Homo sapiens: one gene and its partner. The protein of the gene in region 2 purifies or fractionates together with the protein of the main gene of each other region. This does not show direct contact. Each region holds a gene or a part of one and is shown on either strand. Other genes may lie near its edges. The genes, in order: FAM81A and OR5C1.

Region 1 (4,339 bases), on a different chromosome or scaffold from region 2:
TAGAGCCAACGTAAATTTTCAATGGAACCTGTCCAAAGGTCTTTGTGACTTCCTCCTAGATAATGTGGCAGGCTGGGAGAAGAATAAGCAGGCAAGCGGGGGTGATTTTGGATTGAGGACTGAAATATAAGAAGCCCAACACATTGAAACAAAGGATTCTGGGATCCCAGACAGAATGGAAATGGCCAGCAACTTACATGCCCCAAGTGGAGAAACAGAGTCACAGAGGGGCTGAAGGATTGGAACAGCAAGTGCTTAAGGGACCAGGGTCCTCAGCGATGGTTAAAATCCAGAGCAGTATGTGGGTAGTATCAGCTAAGTAGGCTGAAGTCCGAGTTCAAGATCTCAAAGGTTTAGTCTTGTTCAAGACTGAACAAGTCCAAGATGTTAGTTGAAGCAAAGTGGAAACTGAGGCTACTGGGATAGATGTTGAGGAACTTCAAGGTCAAAGAATTAAGAGAGCTTCAACACAAAACCCAAAGTCACTGGCAAGAGACAAAGCAGAGAAGAGAATGAAGCTGGCTGCTCACGTTTTTTGTTTGTTTATCCCTTTTTTGGGGCATCAAGTGAAGAGATCCCCACTGTACCTGGGTGTACATCAGAATTGCCCAGAGAGTTCTGTTCCTTCTCTTCATCGTCTCCTGCTGCTCCTCCTTTTGGGGTTTGTTTTTAAAGTAGGGATTTTTAGGTCTTACTCCCCCACCCTGCCCCAGCCCCCAATGATTCTAATTTGGTATATCTGAGAGAGTCTAAAGACCAAGTTTTTCAAAATGTCCCAGGTGATTCTGAGGAGCCCCCAGGTTTGGGAAGCACTGGACCAGAAGATAAGAAGGAGGGTAGGGGCACAAGCAGATAGCACTACCTTCCGAGAGGAGACTTGGTTGGTGATGGTGCATTGGTTTGGAGGCAGCACTAAGGAGAAGCGGAAGAGCATCCCTACTCTGGTGAGACGGTGGAGGACACTAGAGAAGGCTCTTCTGCGGCAAGTTGTTCACTCAGGCTCTGGTGCTCGGGAGAGAAGGTGGGTTCAGCTACATAAAAAATGAAAATGCAAGAGTGTGGCTGCAGGATACAAGAAACAAGACATTTAAAGCCAGGTCGGAGTGACACAGCCTAGTGGCCTGCAGAGAGAGGAGGCTGAATAATGCGCTAATAACGTTTCCAAGCACCATGTAGTGTGGCTCATTAAATGGTTGGTAGGGCTTCATGGTTGAATTCCTGGACACTAAGTATTTTTCTATCCGTATGCTATCAGATTTCTAACATGTAACACATTAAAGGTTATTAAGCCCTCAGGTAAACAAGCTTGCAGAAGCTTATTCATTAGCATTGGAAACTGTGTCTTCCCAACCCACGTTCTTATACAGATGAAATCAGATTCGAATGAAAATCAAGGGTAGCTTTAAGTAGAAAGTCAGAAGGGGCAACCAGGGGTACCTGTGAGAGGGTACGTCCTCCATTCCCCTCCGTGGAAGAGGGAAGTTTATAGACAGTGGATATGGAAGGGGGCCTAAGTGTCCTTTTTAGTACCAGTCAACGCTAAAAATATTATAAGTGCCAAGGAACCCGCCCCCCCCAACACACACACACACACATACACACACGCGCATTCAGTGACAGGGCCCAGAAGGCAGATACAATGTGCAAATCTGGGGATGGTTCTCAATAAAGAATATATTTACTCTACAAACCTCTTATTTTAAAAGCAAGTTGCAAATGTTTGCCCTTGCTTCTGAGAGAGCTGCACTTTTGTGGATTCGAATCATTCTAGCATTATTTCTGGTTACTCCTATGAAATAATTTCCAACACTGCCGTACGCAGACTTTGAGCTGAGGACGAGAGCGCACGCGCACACACGCACACACACACACGCGCGCACACACACACATAAACCTCGTGCACATTGAAGAAATGACTCACTTAATTTGCTGCTGCCTGCCACGATTGGGTTTTGATTTTACCTGTTCAAATACAAAGTTTCCTATTAGATTAACTACAGGAAAGAAGAACTTAGGAGCATTAATCCTGATTTTGTTCATGTCTTTAGGGCACCAAAGAGGTTTTAACCTGTGCATCTTAAGAAGCCATTCTCCGGACCACCGACTGCTTGCTCCATAATCTTCCAGACAACGATAACATTTCTTACCACTTTAGGAGCCAATTAATGGAAACCCCTCCTAGAATAAACATGGTTAAGCTTTGCATCTCCGGTACCTGCAGAACCGTACTTTAGGGCTCTTTCTCAGCTCGCAGTAGGATGGCACAACAGCATTCTGGAACTGCAAAGACCCCCTAGCCTCTCGTTTGAAAGATGAGAAAAAGCGAAGGGGCGGAAGAGCAGATGGTTAACCTACCCAAGGTCACTCACTCTGAGTAGTGGGTCGGCTGACTCGCCTTTACCCCTGGCAATCCGTGCACCACCCCAGCTCCCCCAAACAGTCCCTCCGGGCGTCGGTTGGTTCGCTAGCATGCAGCCCCCGCGAAAATGCAACGCCAGTTGCGCTCTGTGCCCAACTTCAGCCCTTCGCGTCACATGCAGTTAACCCTCTCGCCCGCGGCATGTCACATGGGCCACGCGCAGCTCTCTCTACCCCACGCCTATCTCCTGAGAGGCTGCCCCAAGGTCACCGGCCGTCCCAGAGAGCTCCCGCCGCCCAGCCCCAGAGGCCGCCCGGCCGGGGTTCCCAGAGCGCGGCACTCACCGGCGCGGGGGGTGGGCGCGCCGCGGCTGCCCATGTCCTCGCCGGCGCGGCTGGGTGCGGCGGCCGCTGGCGCTGGCTGAGCAGGGCGCCCGGCTGCGGGCCCGCGCCGCGGGGAGCGCCGTCCAATCAGCGCGCGCCTGCCGCCTGGCCCGGCGCGCGGCCCGGCCGGGTTCGCGGCTCCCGGGGGGCGCGAGCCGCCGCGCGCCGCCGGAGCCGCTTCCGGGCGCGTTGCCTGGACGCGGTTGCCGTGGCAGCCCGAGCTGGAGGCTTTCCCCGCGCACCCGCGCCCAGCCTGGCGGCGCCGCCCCTCCTCCCTCCTCGTTCCCACACCCAAAATAGCCTCTGCTCGTCGCTGCTGTTTCCCACAGAGCTCGCATCCAAGCGCCTTGGAGTTGGCGGGCGGGGATTTCGCTCATTGGAAAATAAATCCTGTTGTAGGGATGGTTGATTTGGAGAGGTGTTGAAATGGTGCCTGACGGAGATCATAGCCATGGTGGTGGCACTGCAATTCTCTCTAGAGCCCCAATATACCTTATTTACTAAACCGCTTTCCCACAAAAATAGTTCTCTCCCCCGCCCCACCTCAAATTGGGGAGAAGTTATTTGATTAGGCCACGGTGACGCCCCACCTGTGCAGGTGAACGAACCCTCCGGGGCTGCCATGTGTCATTTACTGAATCGCCTTGACACCTGCAGTTGGGACCCAGGATCGTGTCTCATCGCAGCAGACACGACGAGAAGAAGAACCCCGAACACCCCTCCTCTTCCCAGCCCTTTCTTCTCCCGTCAGCTTCATCCCCTCCCAGCGCGTCCTGGCTCTTTCCACCTTCCTCTCGATTTTGGATTCTCATCAGGACGCACAAGCCCATTCACTCATAATTGTGCTTCCTCTCGGTGGGCAGGATTTCAGCGGAGTTGCGGGGGACACGACCTTTGCCTCATCTGGTTCGTGCCTCCTTCGCAGATACTGGTACTTACCCAGCACAGGGGCTCCTGTCTGTCTCCCCCACCCCGCCCCAGCCTGAGCCCTTCCAACCCAGGGGAAGGAGCCCGACATGGTAGAAGAGCCCGAACTGTGGATTCGGCTGAGCGGTTTTGGAATTCTCTCTCCGGCAGCATTATTATTTAGGGGCTATTAGTATTAAGGACTGTTATTTGTGTGTGATCTTTGAAATATTTGTGGGTATTCTGCGACTGTTTCCTCACCAGTAAAACGGGCTAATAACTTCCACAAAGCGCTAACGCATCTGTAACATTCATTCAGCCAACAGTATCTATTGGATGGCTGCCAAGTGCTAGAAACTATGCTTAGCCCTGAGACACAATGGTGAAGATGAAAAAGAGACACATCACTTTCTGATCCCACAGAGCTTAGAGCCTGACGAGCATTCATCAAATAATCACAGACACATGTTAACACTGCCGTTGTGACCAGGAGAGTAATGGCCTTGAGTCTTGTGATGTGTAGATCTGGTATAACAGCATCTCTTTAGTGCTGCAAAAGCTCAATGATTATTCTTTCCTTTCTCGGTTAGATTCCCACTGCCTGGTGCATGGTATGTACTAGGTAAATACATATTGAATTGGATCCTATGTCATGGTGATGACACTGTCACTCTGCTTCCCAGTGACCTTC
Region 2 (2,959 bases):
TTGGTTGCACAGATTATTTTATTACCCAGATATTAAGCCTAATATCCATTAGTTTTTTTTTTTTTTGCTTCTCTCTCTCGTCCTACCCTCCACCCTCCGATAAGCCCCAGTGTGTGTTGTTCCCCTCTATATGTCCGCATGTTCTCGTTGTTTAGCTCCCACTTATAAGTGAGAACTTGTGGTGTTTGGTTTTCTGATCCTGTGTTAGTTTGCTGAGGAAAATGGTCTCCAGAGCCATCCACGTCCCTGAAAAGGATATCATCTCTTTCTTTTTTGTGACTGCATAGTATGCCATCATGCCCAGCTTATTTTTAACAATTTTTTTTTTTTGTAGAGATGGTGGGGGGGTCTCCCTGTGTTGCCCAGGCTGGTCTTGAACTCCTGCCTTGGCCTCCCAAAGTGCTGGGGTTACAGGCATGAGCCACTGCACCCAGCTGAATATTGAAGAATGTTTTGAATGTTGAAGAACCTGAGGCAGTGCAACAGAAACATTAGCCTGGTCTAGCGTCTGGCTCTAGGTCTAGCCCTAGATGAACCCCAAATCTTTTTCTCCCTGCTATAAGCTTTCATTTCCCTCTTTACTGTCCCTTAAACAATGACATGAGACATCCAAGCCAGAGGAACATCCCATCTTTACCGACAGTGACGGGGCCAGAAAGAGGCCCCGACCTTCCTCATCCCCTCATAGTCAGACCTACCCAGCCTCCCTGGACCAATCACTGGGACCCCTGCCCTGGACAGTGGAATCGGCTCCAGGTCTGCCTGAGGGCCTCCTTGACCTCCTTATTGCGGAGGCTGTAGATGAGTGGGTTGAGAGACGGGATGACCAGGGTATAGAACACAGAGGCCATCTTGTCAGTGTCCAGGGCATAGCTGGAGCTGGGGCGCAGGTACATGAAAATGAGTGTCCCGTACATCATGGCCACGGCTGTGAGGTGGGAACCACCGGTGGAGGCTGCTCGCCGACTGCCCTCGACCGAGCGCATGTGGATCACAGCCCCAGCGATGAAGCCATAAGACACCGTGATAGCTAACACCGTGGCTGTCTGGATGAAGCCACAGATGGCGAAGAGAAGGAGTTCATTGAGACTGGTGTCACTGCACGAGATGGCCAGCAGTGGAGGGATATCGCAGAAGAAGCTATTGATCTTCCGGGAGCGGCAGAAGCTCAGGCGGAAGGTGAGGGTTGTGTGAACAAAGGCACTCACTGCCCCACCCAGGCCTGATGCTCCCAGCAAGGCCAGGCATAGACGCTGCGACATAGCTGTTGTATAGAGAAGTGGGTTTCTGATGGCCACGTAGCGGTCATAGGCCATGGCTGCCAGCAAGCAACACTCAGTATCAGCCAGACCTGCAAAGACAAACATCTGGAGGGCACAGGCTGTGTAAGGGATGGTGGCTCGGGGCAGCAGCAGGTCCACTAGCATCTTGGGGCCGATGGCGGAGGAATAGCAGGCATCCAGCAGGGAGAGGTTGGCCAGGAAGAAGTACATAGGTGTGTGGAGCCGGGCATCCATGCGGATCAGCAGCGCCATGCCCATGTTTCCCAGCAGGCTCACCAGGTAGACAGGCAGGCAGGTCAGGAAGAGGGCCACACGCAGGTCCCAGCGATTTGTGATGCCCAGGAGGACGAATTCAGCAGGGGCAACCGCGGCCCGGGTGAGGTTCTCTGAGTTCATCCTACTGGACAGAGACTGAGAAGAGGCAAAGCAGGAGGGAGATAAGAGCAATGGCAAGGCCATGGCCAGGGAGAAGAAAGCATCCTGTACTGGGAGTTAGGTAGGCTTGGGTTTCAGCTCACCTGTGCAACAAAATTGCTGTGACCTTGAGCAAGCCACGTAACCTCTCAAAACCTGTTTCTAACTCTTAGAAGTCATTGCAGAAGCCTTTTTTTGTTTTTGAGATGGAGTTTTGCTCTTGTTACCCAGGCTGGCGTGCAAAGGTGTGATCTCAGCTCACCACAACCTCCGCCTTCTGGGTTCAAGCGATTCTCCTGCCTCAGCCTCCCAAGTAGCTGGGATTATAGGCATGTGCCACCGTGCCTGGCTAATTTTATATTTTTAGTAGAGATGGAGTTTCTCCATGTTGGTCAGGCTGGTCTCGAACTCCCAACTTCAGGTGATCCGCCCACCTCAGCCTCCTGAAGTGCTGGGATTACAGGCATGAGCCACTGTACCCGGCCCGTCTTTTTTTCTTTTTTCTTTTCTTTTCTTTTCTTTTTTTTGAGATGGAGTCTTGTTTTGTTGCCCAGGCTGGCGTGCAGTGGTGCAATCTTGGGTCACTGCAACCTCCGCCTCCTGGGTTCAAGTGACTCTCCTACCTCAGCCTCCCGAGTAGCTGGGACTACAGGTGCCCGCCACCATGCCCGGCTAATTTTTGTATTTTTTAAGTAGAGGTAGGGTTTCACCATGTTGGTGGTCAGGCTGGTCTTCAACTCCTGATCTCAAGTCTGCCTGCCCCAGCTTCCCAAAGTGTTGGGATTACAGGTGTGAGCCACCACGCCCAGCCTTTTTTTTTTTTTTTTTAAAGAGACACAAGGTCTCACTATGTTGCCCAGGCTGAACTAAAATTCTTGGGCTTAAGTGATCCTCCTCCCACCTCAGCCTCCCAAGCAGCTGGGATTATAGGCATGCTCCACCACACCCACAGGGGTCTTGTCCCTCTTATTCACTTTTGTGTCTACAGCACTGAGAGCATTGCCTAGCACATAGCTGGTGCTCAAAAAAGATTTGTTAAATGAATGAATGGGATGATATTTAGTGTCCAGCCAATGATTGAAAACTTTGTGACTCTATATGCATTCTCCTCTCCAGTTTTCCAGGTAAGAAAAGAGACAGTGGAATGAGCAGAAATAATCTTCAGATCCAACGGGCACCTGGCCATGGCTTTTGAGGTTTGCTAGTAGGGACATCTTTCCTTTGGAGTAAGATCGGAGAAAGGAGTAGCCTGGTATCTTGCG

What was found.
Region 1: the proteins of OR5C1 (region 2) and FAM81A purify together in Homo sapiens (affinity purification with mass spectrometry; one large-scale study listed by BioGRID and IntAct). This does not show direct contact.

What each region holds. Positions count from the first base shown.
Region 1 is NC_000015.10:59,436,647-59,440,985, reverse strand, and holds the start of FAM81A (protein FAM81A), read right to left. Parts: upstream 2,801-4,339; 5' UTR 2,704-2,800; exon of another isoform or gene 2,356-2,703; intron 2,331-2,355; exon of another isoform or gene 1,922-2,330; intron 1,032-1,921; exon of another isoform or gene 863-1,031; intron 1-862.
Region 2 is NC_000009.12:122,787,653-122,790,611, reverse strand, and holds OR5C1 (olfactory receptor 5C1), read right to left. Parts: upstream 1,680-2,959; coding exon 717-1,679; downstream 1-716. UniProt on the Homo sapiens protein: Odorant receptor.